2 separate regions of the Homo sapiens genome follow, and region 1 is linked to region 2. The links come from fine-mapping of genetic effects on plasma protein levels. Region 2 holds a variant in brackets. A gene starts in the other region. All regions are shown on their forward strands. Region 1 holds the start of SLURP1 (secreted LY6/PLAUR domain containing 1). Region 2 overlaps POU2F3 (POU class 2 homeobox 3).

What was found. PIP is the chance, under the fine-mapping model, that this variant and not a neighbour inherited with it causes the effect. The UK Biobank Pharma Proteomics Project read protein levels with antibody pairs (Olink). The fine-mapping took linkage between variants from a reference panel, not from the people measured, so its PIPs are less certain.
Region 1: it holds the start of SLURP1, and the variant in region 2 is fine-mapped to the plasma level of the SLURP1 protein (UK Biobank, PIP 0.98).

Annotation. Positions count from the first base shown.
Region 1 is chr8:142,738,789-142,747,111 of GRCh38, forward strand. It overlaps SLURP1 (secreted LY6/PLAUR domain containing 1), which reads right to left and starts at 3,618. Exons shown (of 3, transcript NM_020427.3): 1 at 3,540-3,618; 2 at 3,015-3,134; 3 at 2,161-2,488. The coding sequence starts at 3,597. The coding sequence ends at 2,355. RefSeq lists an enhancer at 1-167 and silencers at 416-695, 736-815.
Region 2 is chr11:120,240,752-120,249,074 of GRCh38, forward strand. It overlaps POU2F3 (POU class 2 homeobox 3), which reads left to right. Exons shown (of 13, transcript NM_014352.4): 2 at 5,698-5,766. Among named protein-coding and RNA genes, the nearest start is that of POU2F3, 4.8 kb to the left of the region's middle. The variant C/T (reference allele first, on the strand shown) is at 4,249.

The DNA.
Region 1 (8,323 bases), not on the chromosome of region 2:
GACAGCAGGACCATCGCCCACCTCATGGATAGGGAAACAGACTAGGGCAGGGAATTCCCAGTATGGCCGCCAGGGGCTCAACGAGGCAGGCCAAAGGGGCTGATTCGTCCCAGGCCCAGGCCGCCGCTCCCCGCATGACTTCCCCTCTGGACACCTGCGAGTTGGGGGCACCCTTGGGGAGGTGGAGGGTCTTGCTCCTGAGGGCGGGGAGGGACGCCCTGCGGTCTGCACACCCCTCTCCTTTAGAGATTTCTTAAAGCTGCGGAAGACTAGCGCTGGCTGGTCTGACCTCTCCGCGGTAGTGGGGTTCAGAAGGGCCTCTGCTTCCCCTCCGCGCAGTAGGGCCTAGCGGCACGGGTGGGCGCCCTTCTCCCTCCCCTCCACCGCCACCTCTTGGCGGCTGGCTGCTTCCCCGCCAGCTTTACCCACGTCCTGCGACGGTCACGGATGCGACGCCCACTCACCTCCCTAGACCCCGCGCGCCCGGGTGGTGAGCGCCTGGCCTCCGCGAGCCCCACCCCGTGGGCGCGCCCTCCCGAGGTCCCTCCCTGGCCGTGGCCTCCCCACGCATTTCCTGGGAGGGTCGCGGCGACAGGCAGGGCAGGTGGGCGTCCTCCAGGCCGGCCGAGAGGGCCAGGGCTCTCTGAACTCTGTGCTGCGGACCCCTACGGTCCAGGCGGCCCAGCTGCGCGCGCAGTGCAGGTTCCGGGCAGAGCGCACAGGGTCGCCGCGTGCTCGCGGTGCGCGCTCTGGGACGAGTCTTCCTGGCGCGGGTTCCGGGACTCGGGCGCGCGCCCTCTGCTGGCCGTGCGGGCTCAGCATCGGGGGCCCCTCGCAGGTGCCCTCCCAGGGATAGGGGCACCTGCTGAGCCTTCACCACTGCGCTCCCAAAGAGCCTGGAGGCCTCATCCCCATTGTGCCGCTGGGGACGCTGCCAGAGATGCGGCGACTTCTTGCTCCGTCCCCCTGGTGAGGCCAAGGCCCTGCCCCCTTGGCTCCAATCGAGGCCCGGGTGAGGCCCTTGGAGGTCCGGCCATGACCCAGGGGACGGGCCCTAACCGGAAGCCACGCCGCCGGCCCGGTGCTGGCCAACGGGGAGGCCCGGGGTAGCCCTTCAAGGGGGCCTCTCTGGCAGCTTTCTCTGGTCGGGGCTGCTCCCCAGGGACAGCATTTAATTCCTGGTATTTCTGGGAGGGCGTAGAGGTAGGGGGTGGGTTCTGACATCTGGGCCCTTCATAGACAGAGGTGGGCTCTCACAGGGGTCCTAGGCGACCCCCGCCACTGCCCTGGTTACTCCCGCATGCTCCTCGGGTATGCCCAGCTGGTCTGACCACAGCCTGCTGCATACCGCTCCCACCCCAGCAGGCACAGGTGCCCACAAGACCCCACGGGCGTGACCCAGCTGATGTGTGGGGCCTTAGAACCCAAGACCTAGCTGGGCAGCGCTTAGATGGTGTGCAGCCCAGGAGACACCAGGGGACTGGGGCCTGGAGAGGGGCAGTGTCCAGGGGTGGCTCAGGCCCACAGCAGCCCGTGCTCCCCGTTGGCTCTGCCCACCTGCCGACAGGGGTGACAGTGGCACAGAGCACTGTGACTGTGATGGGACAGCCAGGGCCAGGAAGAGGGGGAAGCGAGCCTGGAAGTCAGGTCTCCTGGGTCCTGAGAACCCGGGGCTCCTCCGCTAATCTCAGCTGTCCCAAGGGGACAGTGGGCAGTTGTCAGAGGAGGTGACTGAAACCGTGGAGCTGTGTGGTACCAGCAGGCCCAGGTGCACACACCCAGGAAGACCCCTTGGGCTGGGCAGGCAGAGCCAGATGTATCCACCCTTGGAGGAAAGTGGATGCCAACTCTGAGCTTCCTTCCCTCTCTAGGGTGGGAGCGATGTCTCCAGGGTTTACAGGGGAGATTCTTAGCGGGAGATGTTCCCTGGGCTAGGGTACAGGTCCTGGTCTGAGATGCCAGGCTAGTTTGCATCAGGAAAGGGGCCCAGGAGGCATTTCTTCCCCTAAGTCTCTGTTTTCCTATCTGTGAAATGGGTCACAGAGGCTCTGGGTGAGAGGGAGGAGCAGGTGCCTAGAATGTGCTGTCCTTCAGCCTGGCTCTCCTGAAGGCCAGTTCTGTAGGGTGTCAGTGCCCAGGAAGGACAAAAGTCATGTCCACTCTTGGCTTAGTTATGTTTTATAAGCGTGGGGTATGGAAGGCAGAGGGCGCCCCTGGTGTGCTTCTCTCCCCTCAGACCCCATGAGTGAGCTGTGCCACAGCAGCAGGAAGCAGGGGGAGGTGATCACAGGTGGAGCCAGGCCCCGTCAGAGAGGAGGTGCCTGAGGAGCACCTTCCGCCCTGCCGCCCTGGGTTCAGAGTTCCGAGTTGCAGAGGTCTCGGAAGCAGCAGAAGATCAGGTGGGCGGCCCCGATGCTGTCGGGGTCGGTGGCCACACAGGAGCTGGAGCAGGAGCGGGTCACCACGGGGCTCTGGTTGAAGGGGTACTCTGCAGGGTGGGCCAGTGTCAGAACCCTCACTCCCCTGCAGCGCCTGCCTGCTGCTGCACTGCTCCCAGCCGCCGTCGCCTGACCTCACCCTCCCTGTGATCCCTGTTCCCAATAGTCCACATCTGTGAAGCCACCCAGGGCCCAGCCCTCCTCTGACTGTGACCTGTTCATGAATTATTAGGCCTTGTCAGACCTCTGAAGTGCCTGCGCTGAGATGGGAGCCCGAGCCCAGAGGCTGTGGCAACACCACCCAGTGGGTCTGTGTCAGAGCTGGGGTTTGAGCCCCCCAGGGTACCCCGGCCATTAAGCCCCACCCACCTCCAGCGCCTGGTGCCCCAGGACTGGGTCTCTGAGGGGGCTGTGCCACCCTCGTGGAAGGCACCCCTGCCAAGGTGTGGCAGCCTGTTCTGCCCATCCCACCTGCTGCCTTTTGGGCCGGGAGGAGCACCAGCAAAGGAGGGAGGCACTTGGGGGAGGTGGCCCTGACTCCAGTGCACCCAGGGCTGCCGTGGGGCCTGGCCTCACCTGCCTCCACCGTCACCAGCGTGGTCATGCAGGCTGTGTCCTCTGGCTTGCAGCGGGTAATGGTCCTGCAGGAAGCACTGGTCATGGGCTCCTTGCAGGTGTAGCACTTGAGGGCCTCACCTGGGTGAGGGATGGGGGCAGAACCTCATCACCTGACCTCGGTGGCCTCATCCTGGAACCAGGAGGCAGGGGCTGAAGGAGTCTCGCTGACATCTTTCAAGGCCCCGGGCAGCCCTTCAAGGGGCCTCTCTGGCAGCTTTCTCTAACTGAGCTGAGCCACAGACTTGAATGCTGCATCCCTCCACCAAGCCTCAGTCTCCCTTCCTGCAGAGTGGAGCCGTGACCCCTGTCCCAGGGTGAAGCTGGGCTCTGGGACCCAGGAGGCTCACTGAGAATGAGGAGGGTGAGCCTCATGGAGGCCTAAGGAGGCTCTCAGCCACAAAGCACCCCCAACAGCCCCATCCCCCTAGGAGGTGGGCAGACAAGCTCAGAGGCAGGGTCCCCACCAGCCTGCGGCCCACTCACCACAGCCCATGCTCCAGGCTGCCACGAGCAGCAGCTGCACAGCCCAGCGAGAGGCCATTGCTCCGTGCTCAGAAGTGATGAGAGGTAGCCAGCCTCACATCAAGGATTTATACCCAGGCCCTTGGGCACCGGCTTCTGGGCGGTGGCAGAACCGGCCGTGTGAGTCAGGAACGTGGTAAAGGGCCCAGTGGGGAGGCAGCTGGCAGGAACATGGCAGACGGGCAGGGAGCTGGATCTGGGAGCTCTGTCTGAGGACGATGGCCAGGCCTCTGCTTGCACACCTCCAACACTGGGGAACTCACTGTTCCTCAGCCATGTCCAGTGGTCCTGGGACAGCTCTGACAGAGAAGGCCTTTCCTGCTGAGCTCAGACTGCCCCTCTGATGAGCCCCCATGTCCTGGCTGTGCCTCTGGGGTTCACATAGGCCACCCAGCCCCAGCCTGGGGGACCCTTAAGACCCAGGTTCAGTGTAGCCTCTGCCCTTGTTGCTCTAGCCCCGCCTGGCACCCCTTCCCTGCAGCCTGGCCTGCAGCCCTCTCCACAGACCTCTACCTGGTCTGTGTACACCTGATACACACCTGCAAAGTAGAAACCAGAGGTAGGAAGCAGGTGTCAGGTGAGGGTAGCATGGGCCAGCTAGACCACTCTCAGGCTGACAAGGTTGGGCCCAGGAGTGGCCCCTCATCACTGCCAGCCCCTTCCCACTAATGGCCTTTAGACCAAACCTGAGTTTCTTGATTTTAGGCGCCTGACAATAAGGTTCTGCTCACCCTCCAGCCTCCTGGCCTGACTGTGTTGTCTGCTCTTTACTGCGTGCCCCCCACGACACCCTGTTCCACACGCATGCCTGCCTATGCCATACCGCTCAATGACCACATTGCCTGGTCTCCCATCTGATGTCCCACATCTTCCCCATGCTGTGAGACCCACTAAGGTGCCCCTCTCCACAGTCCTTCCAGGTATACCAGCCTCTCTGGTTTCTCTGTCCTGTGATGTCCCAATGGGTGGTTGTATAGATGGATGAGTTGATGGATGGATGGATGGGGGATGGATGAATGGGGGATGAATAGGCGATGGATAGGGGATGGATGGATAGATGGGTGGGGGATGGATGGGTAAATGAATGGGAGATGGATGGGTGGATGCATGAGTGGATGGGTGGATGGATGGGTAGATGGATTAGTGGGGGATGAATATGGGATGGATGGATGGATGGTAAGAGATGGATAGGAAATGGGTGAAGGATGTATGGGTGGATAAGTTGGGGATGAATGGAGGATGGGTGGGGGATGGATGCATAGATGGATGGATAGGTGGATGGATGGATGGATGGGTGGATGGATGGGTAGATGGATGAGTGGGGGATGAATATGGGATGGATGGGGGATGGATGGTTGGATGGATGGGGGATGGATGGGAAATGGGTGGAGGATGGATGGGTGGATGGGTGGGGGATGAATGGAGGATGGGTTGGGGATGGTTGGGTGGATGGATGGATGGGTGGATGGATGGGTAGCTGATGAGTGGGGGATGAATATGGGATGGATGGGTGGATGGTGGGAGATGGATGGGAAATGGGTGGAGGATGTATGGGTGGATGGGTCAGGGATGAATGAAGGATGGGTGGGGGATGGATGGATAGATGGATGGATGGGTGGATGGATGGGTGGATGGATGAGTGGGGGATGAATATGGAATGGATGAGGGATGGATGGGGAATGGGTGGAGGATGTATGGGTGGATGGGTGGGGGATGAGTGGAGGATGAGTGGGGGATGGATAGATGGCTGGATGGGTAGATGGATAGATGGATGGATGGGTGGATGGATGGGGGATGGATAGGAAATGGGTGGAGGATGTATGGGTGGATGGGTAGGGGATGAATAGAGGATGGGTGGGGGATGGATGGATAGATGGATGGATGGATAGATGGATGGATGGGTAGATGGATGAGTGGGGGATGAATATGGAATGGATGGGGGATGGATTGGATGGATGGATGGGGGATGAATGGGAAATGGGTGAAGGATATATGGGTGGATGGGTGGGGGATGAGTGGAGGATGGGTGGATGGATGGGTGGATGGATGAGTGGGGGATGAATATGGGATGGATAGATGGATGGATGGGTGGATAGATGGGGGATGGATGGGAAATGGGTGGAGGATGTATGGGTGGATGGGTGGGGGATGAGTGGAGGATGAGTGTGGGATGGATAGGTGGCTGGATGGGTAGATGGATAGATGGATGGATGGGTGGATGGATGGATGGGTGGATGGATGGGTAGATGGATAAGTGGAGGATGAATATGGGATGGATGGGGGATGGATGGGGAATGGGTGGAGGATGTATGGGTGGACGGGTGGGGGATGAGTGGAGGATGGGTGGGGGATGGATAGATGGATGGATGGGTGGATGGATGGATGGGTGGATGGATGGGTAGATGGATGAGTGAGGGATGAATATGGGATGGATGGGGGATGGATGGGGAATGGGTGGAGGATATATGGGTGGATGGGTGGGGGATGGATAGATGGATGGGTGGGGGATGGATAGATGGATGGGTGGGGGATGAATGGAGGATGGGTGGGGGATGGATAGATGGATGGATGGGTGGATGGATGGGTAGATGGATAAGTGGGGGATGGATGGGTGGATGGGTGGGGGATGGATGGGGAATGGGTGGAGGATGGATGGGTGGATGCGTGGGGGATGAGGGGAGGATGAGTGGATGGATGGGGACGGATGGGTGGATGGGCAGAGGATGGGTGGGTGGATGCATGGATGGATGTTGGATAGATGTGTGGATGGATGGATTTCAGAAGGATGGATGGATGGAGGATGGGTGGATAGGTGGGTGGAGGATGGATGGATGAATGGGGGCAAGATGGGTGGATGGATTATTAAATGAATGACATTTGAGAGAGTTGATGTGTGAAAAAATGAATGAATGGATGGGAGAATTCAGGGATGGAGGGATGGGTGGCTATAAAAGTGGCGGCAGACAAATGTGTAGTGAATGGGCCCTTCCGAGGCAGAATTCGATGCTGGAAGGAGCTCTGGGCTGGCACCAGGAGTCCTGGGTTCTGGTCTTGGCCTACTGCTCTCTCCATTTGTGGCCTTGGTGTGGCCCCTTTTTCCTTCCAGTCTTTGGTTTTCTGTTTGTAGTTGTGAAAGCTGAAGTGACCTGGCCTTGTGGGCTGAGGTGAGTTGTGTGAGGCTGTGGGATGGTTGCAAGAAAGCCAAGGGAGGGCGTAGTTACTGCAAATCAAACAAAGGGGCTGACATGGGTTGGTGCACAGATGGCAACCAAGAGCAGCCTCTCCCCAGGGCTTGGTCCACAGACACACCCAGGTGTTTCGAGAGGAGTCAGAGACTGTCCGGTTCTGGAGCCTGAGCTCCACCCGGCCTCCCGTGAAGCCCATGTCTACTCACAAGGACTCTCACCCCACGTTCTTTCATCTATAAACTGGTCAGGGGAACATCTGCCAGAGGGTGGTTGTGAAAACTAGCAAGTATCTGGCAAAGGATGGGCCTCCATCAAGCTTTCAACTCAGCTCTGTGCTGATCACAGTGCAGGTGTACTTGGGGCAGAGGTGGGCGGATGCTGAGGACAGGGGTACTGCTCTCAGCTGCTGCTCACATTGGCTTTGAAAGGGAGGGAAGTCCTCAGAGGGTGCTCTGGGTGGGAGTAGCAGCCAGCAGAGGGGCACAGGCAGCCTTTCCGCTGTGTGGGAAGAGTGGGCACTAACTTGGCCCATCCCTGAGCCCAGCACCCTATTGGCAGGTGGAAAAGCAGCACTGTGTCAGACACAACTCAAGCAGGGAGAATTTATGCCCTAGTTAGGTGACTGCCCTCCCCTCCTCCTGCCTCTCCATGAATCCACACCTTTTCCCGACATGTGGAACCAGGAGACCAGGTTTTTTGAAGGCAGCTCAATCCCCCAAACCCCAGAGTTCTCATCCATGATAGGCCTGCAGCACTGAGCCAGTTCACACCAAGCCCCAGCTATCTGCCATGTCAGCCCGGTCTCTTTCCCAGAGGCCTGGCCCTTTCTCCTTGGCTACACTCTCCACCCTCCACTCAGAGAGACCAGCTAAAATGCAAACTGGCTTATGGCACTGCTCTTCCCAGAAACGCTCCCTGGCTCTCCACTGCCTTCAGCATGCAGTCAAAAAGCCCCACCACCACTGTTGGTGTTTGATGCTTGCCCTGTCTGGGCTGGCCTGAGGGACTACTGGACTGTCATCTCCTCAAGTAGAACATGTTTCCATTCCTCTAAGAATCCTTCTCCCACAGCCTGGGTCTGACCATGCTGACTGTTGAGCAGCATTTGCTGGAGGATGGATGGATGGATGGATGGGTGGATAGATAGATGGGGGATGGATGGAGGATGGATGGATGGATGGATGGGGAGATGGAAGGGGGATAGATGGATGAATGGGTAGGTGCATGGGTGGATGGATGGGGGATGGATGGATGAATGGGTGGGTGCATGCATGGATGGATGGGTGAGTGGATGGATGGGTGGGTGGATGGATGGGGGACAGAAGAGGGATAGATGCAGGGGTGGGTGGATGGGTCGATGGATGGGGGATGAATGGATGAGTGAATGAATGGAGACTGGACAGAAGACGGATGGATGGGTGGATGGATGAGTGGATGGATGGATGGTGGATGGATGAGTGAATGGATGGATGGATAGATAAATGGATAGGGGATGGGTGGATGGATGGAGAGAGTGATGGATGGGTGGGTGGGCATATGGGTAGAAGGATGGATAGG
Region 2 (8,323 bases):
TGTGTATGTCCACATGCTGTGTGCTGGTGTCCGGGCATATGTGTGAAATGGAGGCAAAGCGGACATTTAGGTGGTTGGGGGGCTTAGGAGAAGTGGCTGAGGTGGGGCAATTACAGAGGTGCCCCTGGGGCAGGGGCCATGCCCCCATGTGTTTGAGAAGGGATGGTGACAGACACATCCTCTGGGTTCCATGTCCCATGCCTTCCTTCCCTAAGGGGTGGAAACCTAGGAGATGCAAATGCTTTGCCGGGAGTCAGGCTTCCCTGAATGAATGAATGAGAGGTGGGCATGGAGGGAACCCAGCCCCTCCATTCACCTTGCTGTTCCTCCTTCCACAGCTGGGCTAAGGCAGGAGCTGCCAGGCAGCCAGGTTGGGCTTGGCTTGGGGCTTCCTGTTAGGGTGGGCCTTCTGGAGGTCACAGGGCCTGAGCAAAGAACAAGTGAAGAAAGCGGTACCTGACCTGGCCATTTCTAACCTAGCAACTTACTCTCAAAGTGGGCAGGACCCAGTGATCTTTCTTTAGGATTTCGGGGCTGTTGATGGGAATGTTGTTACCTGGTCTCCTTTCTGGGAGAGTAGGGAGGAGGCAATGCTCCAGACCCACCCCAAGAAGCAGAGCAGGCCTGAGGCCTACCCAGCCTGAAAACAAGCGTCAGTGAGTGCCCGGAGGGAGGGGACCTGGAGTGCCCAGTTCCCCAGATGCTGTTTCCTGGCAGGGCTGAGTGAGAGGCAGACTGGCAGTGAGATGTTGGCACTGAGTGGCTCTCCAGGACGTGCCAGAAAGGCTAGGTGAGGCGGAAGAAGCCATCCAACTGGGTGTCATCCAGAGTCTGAGGAAAGTCTGTTTCTAGACTGGGCATACCTGGGGCAGATCCCCGGGTAGGTGCTCTCCCCTTCACTGCCCGCAGAGAAGGCCAGGGTTTGAATGGGAGCAAGTCTCTTCAGAAAGGTGGGCTTAGCAGTGGATGGGAAGTTTTTTAGCACCAAGATCACAGACTTCCTGGGGGTTTTCCACCTCCTTGTCTACTGGAGGCTCCCATTCTGTGGAAGTGGGAGGGGGTGGGACAGTTGGGACCCAGCAGGGAGGCAGCCTGGGGCCTCAGAGGATATAGCAGAGAGCAGAGAACACCAGAGGATGAGGTTGAGGCATAGGGCTTGGCCTCTATGCCTTCCCCAGGAGTGAGCTCCTGGCTGATGCTTCTCAGAAGCCCAGACACCTTCTCCACCCTGTCCCTGTGAGCAGGTATTCCCGACACATGGGGGGAGACTGAGCTAAACCCCAGGTGGGGTGATTCCTCAGGGCGGGATCTCCATGTACCTGGGGGTAGATTGCCCAATTCATCTCTCTCCATTTGCCTGCTCCCTCCCCAGCCCATTCCCCCCTCAGGGCTACCTGGCCTCCCTGTGCAGTTTCTGGGTCTTGGCCCCTCTGTAGTGTCTGAGGGTTCCCCTTCAGTGGCACCTCCAGAGGTCTCTGAGTTTAGGACTTTCTGTCCCATCTCTCTAACTGGGTCTCTATTAGAGGGCTCTCTTTGCTGGGTCCTCCTGGTGGCCTTTACTGTTCAAGATCTTCTTTGTAGGGTCTTCCAGTGCGCACCCTGCTGTGGGGTCTGTGAAGGAGGATCGCTCTTCCCTCTATGGAATATCTCATTATGGGTCCCTCTCTAGGGTCCCTTAGTCCAGGATCCTCTTTTGGAAATGTGGTCTCTTTTGAGTCCCATTTTCCCCCGCCAAGGTAATCCTGTATCCTACTGATCTTGATAAATAGTACTTCTCCTGTGAATTCCCAGGGCTGGGTCCTTGGGGTCTCCTCCTTAATTGACTTACTGGAGGAGTTTGGATGGGGGAAGGAGGAGGAACAGGAGCACACAAACTAGAGCATAGGCTTGCTCCCGGGTCGCCCACTCCAAGGGCTCCACTCGCACTGAGGCCAGCTGGAGTTAGCCCCATTGTCTTGCTCTGATAACCTGGGTACGAGCCATGATTCAGGTCTGCCTGGAGCCTTCGCACCTTGTACTTTATAGAGCATCTCTCACCTGGAAGCACAAAGACCTGAGCAGGCAGAGGGTCACCAGACACAGGGGCTCTGCAGCAAGGAGGGGCTCCCTGCTCCCTGACTAAAAACAGGCAGAGAAGTAGACCCGAGACAGCCAGCTAGGGAGGCAGATAAGAGACAAAGGAAAACAGTGGGAAGCCAGCGGGCGGGGGCACACCTGGTTTGCCCCAGGTGTCTCTTTCTCTGCCCTTCTCCTCACTGTGAGCTTTTCCCCACCAAGGTTGGGAAAGGGGGGCTGAGTCTCACAGACGGGTGCCAATTGGAGCTCAGGAATAGCATTTGGGTTGGAAGGCCTGATGATGGGACTGAGAAGAAATGAGAGAAGTCTCCTCTGGCGGAGAGTTGGAGCCTTGGCTAGCTCAGAAGTGGGGCCGGTGGGTCCTTTGAAGTCTCCCAGTGGAAGTGCCGCCATCAGCAGGTATGTGCGGGAGGAGCCAGAGGGAGCTCCCGTCCTTCCAAGAACATGAAGATGGACACTAGGAGAGAGGGCTGTGGCTTCTGCTTTCCCAGAGTAGCCTGGTCCCAGGAGGTCCAGGACCCTCAGCCTGCAGCCTGTGGGGAGTGCTTCCTCTCGAGCTTTCTTCCCTGGGGTTCACAGATGTCTAAGGAGGGCCCACTCCTGGTCAAGCCAACGCTAACTTCAGGGTGTGATGGTGCTGAGTGGGGCAGCCAAGGGTCTGCAGCTGGTGTCTGGGCTCTTTCACAGAGCAGCTGAGCCTCCCCAGGGAAGGGAGTGATGGCAAGGAGCCTACTCAGTGTCTGGCTGAGATAACACAGAGGAGCCTGGCCCCACCCCACACCTCTCTCACTCACCCCTGGCAAGTGCTGTCCGACAGGTGAAGGGTTACAGTGTCTCAGGGAGTTTCGGTGTTGGCCCATTTTTAGGCTGAGACCCAAAAGCTCGTCCCACCCATCAGCCTCAGCCTCCTACCCAACAGGAACAGGTTCTCAGTGTCTTAGCATCCTATGGGACTCAAGAAGAGGCTTGATAGGTTATCTCACCCTGCCCCTCCAATCCTGAAGTGGCACCTTGTTGATCCCATAATGGATACATCAAATGAGTAGACAACATGGCAGATGAGGAGGGGAGGGGGTTGATGCCTTTGAAAGTTATTTTTAGACATGATTAAGACTAAATGTCAGGCTAACTTGAAGGATGAATGAGAGCTTCTGTGTGTATTTGATGAAGGTGATGTGGAGAATGGGTGTTGGAGGAGAATTTGGGTTCTAGGCATGCGATTACAGTTTAGCTAAAGAATTACCTTCTTAAATTTCAGGAGTTTGAAATGAGTTGATTCAGAGACTCTGGTCATCATCCCAGCGTCACTGCCTCTTAACTTTTTCCTGTCCTCATGAACACTTTTTCTGTGAAGTCAGAATTTGGAGAATCCTAATGGTTTCCCAGATAAAGGACAAATTACAATGGTGCTGAGACAGAAAACCAAAGCTATTCCTTATAATGGGGCAAGGGGTTAATGGAGGGGCATGAGAAGAAGGCAGGAAGGGAAGCGGACTAGCATCTAAGCCTAAGTGTCTGTTTAATTAGTTCATTTATTAGGTGCTTACTTTGTGCCTGGAACTCCTTTCCTGGCAGTTTTCATTCAGTATTTCATTTAATCCTCACAAAAACCCTGGGAAGTGTATATCATTATTCTCATTTTTAGGTGAGAAAATTCACATCCGAATATGTGGCTAGGGTCCCCTAGCTAGTTAGTGATGGCATTGAGATTAATCCAGGTTTGTCTGATGCCAAATCCCATGCTCTGAATCCTGGTGCTGATGAAGCAAATTGAAACCACCAGTGGGGGAGAACTTCCTGTGCACCTTTCCAGCAGTCTCTGACTCAGGGCCTCTTCTCAGCACTGTTGAAGAATCCCCATGGTGAAGTATGAGCTGAGCAGATCTGCGTTAGGCAATGCCCAGCTCCAGGGGGGATAGTACTTAATGGGTGGGAGAGGGGAGCCCGTTTCTCCATTGGAACAGAAGGCCAGTGGCAGCAGAAGCCCTTTGCAAATGTGTCTGGGCGGTCCATAGTAGTTATTCTGCATATTCATGCATGGCAAACTATAGAGAGTTTGAGACTGCAGCAGGACGGATTGAGGTTAGGCTCAAGAAATGCCTCCCTAAACGCTGTGCACTAGGAGGGGAGGGGGTGGGGTAAGGTTGCAGGTCTTCCTCAGAGCTCTGTGAC[C/T]GACCACAAAGTGCAGTGTAGATTTGTCTGGGGAGGGTTCCATAGAGCTCTAAGTGTTTACCTTGGCGTCTTCCCTCAATTTGGCTGGTCTTGAAAACTCCTTAAACCACAGTGACTCCTGACTTTCTCCCCTATTTCTGGGGTATTCTAGCCTCTAAATCTCTGGATCCCCCATCTATGTCTTGTTTGGCATCGAAGCTGCTACACTCCAGAGGTGTACACCTCGGCCGGAGCCACACACGTTAGTCCTCACACACATGAAAAAGTAGGTTTTCTCCCCTCTTTCCCTGGGGCACAGGTCTACCCTTTTTCCTCATCCTGATCATCTCCAGACCTGGGCATCCGGACTGCCAACTGCCTGATTACCTGATGCAAATTAAGACTGCCTGCTTGACTGGGATTGGCTGGGGAGCTGAGTACGCAAATTGGCTCACCAAGACTTTATCTGGTTTGAAAGAGTTAAAGTGCTGCCCCAGAGAAGGGGGGGTGTGGGGGTCAACATGATTTGAATAAATATTCTTCTGTCTTTAAGGCTTCAGTCTTTGGGTGGTTTAATAAGGAGAGGAGCAGAGAGAGAGTGAGTTGGTTCAAAGTTGCCTCTCTTCTTCCCCCTGCTGACCCCAAGAGGAGACTTAGGGGCCTCCCACATAGGTGGTGGCAGCTGTCTGTTAAGGGTAAATGTTTAATTTATTGAAATGAAGCAGGGCAGAGAGGCTGGACCAGCAGGACTTGGGGGCTGAGCCAGGGGCCTGGTGTAGGTATTCTCTTTCTGTGGGGCACTGACCCGCTGCCATCCCTTTCTCACTGAGCCAGTTGAAGGAGTAGGAGAGAAGGTAAGGATCCCCAAAGGACAGGATCTCCAAGGAGGACAACACAGGAGCTAGGACTTGATCCCCAGACTGTGGGCTGACCTCTGAGACCAGACAGAGAACCCAGGCAGGACCTGGGAAGAAAGGTGAGAAGGGCAAGCCTTGGTTTAAGGGCACTCTTACCTTCCAGGATGGGGTTATTAAGGGAAACAGAGCTGGGGAGGCAGGCGGGGAGGGATAATTCTTTCACTATTTAAAAATAAAATAAATTCCTCAGATCCCAAAGGAAACGAGTGTTGGAAATGGGAAGTGTCCCCTCCACCCCCTTGTTAAATTTTTACCAACTGAGTCCTGGTGATAGAAGCAAGTGGCCATGAATGATGCAAAAGGTGAGAGACCCTGCAGTGGCACCGGGGAAAGGGGAAGAGAAAGGCAAGGAGAGGAGGCGAGCATGGGAGGAGGGGATCCGTGCCCTCAAGCTTATGAATATTCTAATGGTTGTATGTTCGGGAATCAGGAATTTGAAAGTCTGATGGTTGTTGTAATTACACATTCATCTTTGTTATTTAGTTAAAGCCACATATGTCATAGCAAGAAAAATTGTGACCTGTTATTAAAATCAGTTGTGTTTTCCCTGCAGATATCAAGATGAGTGGGGATGTAGCCGATTCCACGGATGCTCGCAGCACTCTCAGCCAGGTGGAGCCAGGTAAGGGTCTTCTCTTCTCGGGGATGGAGGGGGTGGGGGGAAGAGAGTTGTTGGGAATTGTTGAACAACTGGTGTCTCTTCTTGCTTGGTCTTTCAGCCAACCAGACCCCAAAGCTAGGTCTTAGGAACTAAGGGAATTCCCTGAGGACATGGGATATGATTCTGGAGCCTTTGAACAGTAGATATTGCTCCACAGTGGAACAAAACCTCTGGAATTAGGCTAGGAAGAGACCAGATACTTAAAAACAGAACAAAACCAAAAAAGTTCAGGAGCAGCTGTGTTCCCAACTGCTGTGACTGGCAGAGGCAGAACCTGTCTTTCTTAGATGGGGACAAGGCCTTTTAGCCCCAGATACCTTGATAGTCCTACTCAAGGCACTAACCAAAGAGGCCTGTGTACAAATGTTTCTCTTCCAAATAACGTGCATGTGGGTGGCAAATAGGCTCAGAGAGAAAGGCTTGGTGCCTGGAGGTGACTTTGCTTTGGAAAGAAGGGAAAGGATGTCAGTAGTCCCAGCTAGTCAGCAGGCCAAGGTGGGAGGATTCCTTGAGCCTAGGAGTTTGAGGCTGGACCGTCCCAAAAAAAGCTGAGAGGAACAAAGAAGAATTAAAAAAGAGAGTTTCATAGCTCTCTATTTTTACCTCCATAGTTCAAGCCTTGCTTTGAAAGCTCCATATAATTAAAAAGAACTTAAAGATGAGTATAAATTGTAGCACCACCAAATAACTTTAATAGCATTCCAACCAGACCTCAATTAGTCTTTCATCTGGATCATTAGAGACATAGAAATTAGAAGTGGAAGAGAATCAATGTCCCCCAGAGCTAAAATCTTTTTCAAATCTTGTAGAGCAGTGTAGTTCCATTCTTGAAGCTATGAGATTCTTGTCAGGGGCAAGATAATTGGGGGTCTTGGCGGGGAGGGCATCCACAGTATGCATTTGCCATAAACTTTTCTGCTCCCCAGTTTAATACTGAAACAGTGTTTCCTTGCACAGGTAGCAATACACATCAAACTACAATCTTTCTATTTTGCTTTGCTTATGTACAGAGGCAGCAAGACTAAGGAGAATGTGGGCCGGTCACACTCATGTTTCAATAGATTATTTAGCAGAGTATCTTTTACTAAGGGTCTGTGGAGAGGGGCACCTGTTCTTCCCAGTTGAGAAGAAGATTCCCTTTTATCTCAAAAACCTGAGCAAGACTTTAAACTCAGTTCAGCTAGAGAGTGATAGATATAGTCCCCACACTGACACCCTTCCCTAGAGAAAAACCAGCCCAGGAGCCATGATCCAGAGAGGCTGGATTGCCCTTTTCTGGAAGCAGGCTGGCTGGAGCCAATTCTGTTTACCTGGGGCCCATTGCCCAGGTGTGTGGGGACACAGCTAAGAGAGCGTCCACATGGAAAGAAGACCACGCCTAACCAGCTTGCACTGGTGTTCTGTTACTAAGACCAAATCAGGGTAACAGTGTTAGGAGTGAGAATGAGCCACATAGAACCCTGAAAGAGGAGCCAGGAAAGGGAGGGAGTTCAAATCCTGGTGGGGGTTAGGAAGGTTAGTGTGTTATGGTCAATATGAGCAAATTCTGGCTTCCTATCTGGGAGCTATATATAAAGTAGGTTAAGAGAGAAAGAATCCAGACATTGGCTAAGACCTTCAGAATCTGTCTCTTATCCGGGGATACCACCAATTCAATATGTGACCTTAGACCAGCCACTTTGCCTCCCTAGGAGGTAGGAACGGATGAGCTTTGAAGAGTATGGATCTAGAATCAAACAGACCTGGGATAAAATTTGCAGCTCCACTGCTTACTGGCTGCATGACCTGAAAATTTATCCTTGTCCCTTTTGTAAAGGGGGAAAAGTAATGCCCAACTTAGAGAGTGGGTTGAGAGTTACTTGAGATGATGTCTCAAGCCCTTAGCACAGTGCTTGGCACATGGCAGCTGTGATCGTCATTAAGATTCTGGAATATACAGATGGGCATCGCTGCTGAGTACTTCTGGCTCATTCCCCGCTTTACTCAGGCCAGTGCATCAGCCCGGAAGGTTGGTTTTGCTCCCTTTCCCATTTAGGAAAGGATTCTGCACAGGTCCCTTTTCAGCTCCAAGGAGCCCGTGATGTCTGGAACTTTACCACCACCAGGAGATCTTTCACTTCAGGGCTCCCGGCTGGTAGCATCAATACTTAGGTGATCTTCAAATTACTGCCTGTGTTTAAGGGCAAGAAGAAAGAGGTGGCTAATTAAAGTAACCAAACTTCCTGGAAAGTCGTTCTGACTCATTTTCTTTTTACAGAAGAAAGCTTATTATGAGTCACAATGGTTACCAACTTGGTTTAATGGCTTCCTTTGGATTTTAAAAGGCAGATTCACCTTCTCAGCAGTGCATGAATTAAGGGGTGGTTTGTCTCTGGGTTTTAAAGGAACTATAAACAAAGGTGACTTAGAAAGCCCCAGCTCCCTGAAAGCACCCCCTGTGCTGCGTGAAATCCCCAAGGGGTACTGGGGGGTAAGAACTGGGAAAGGGAGGTAAATTTCCCCATCTGCACTGGTCAGG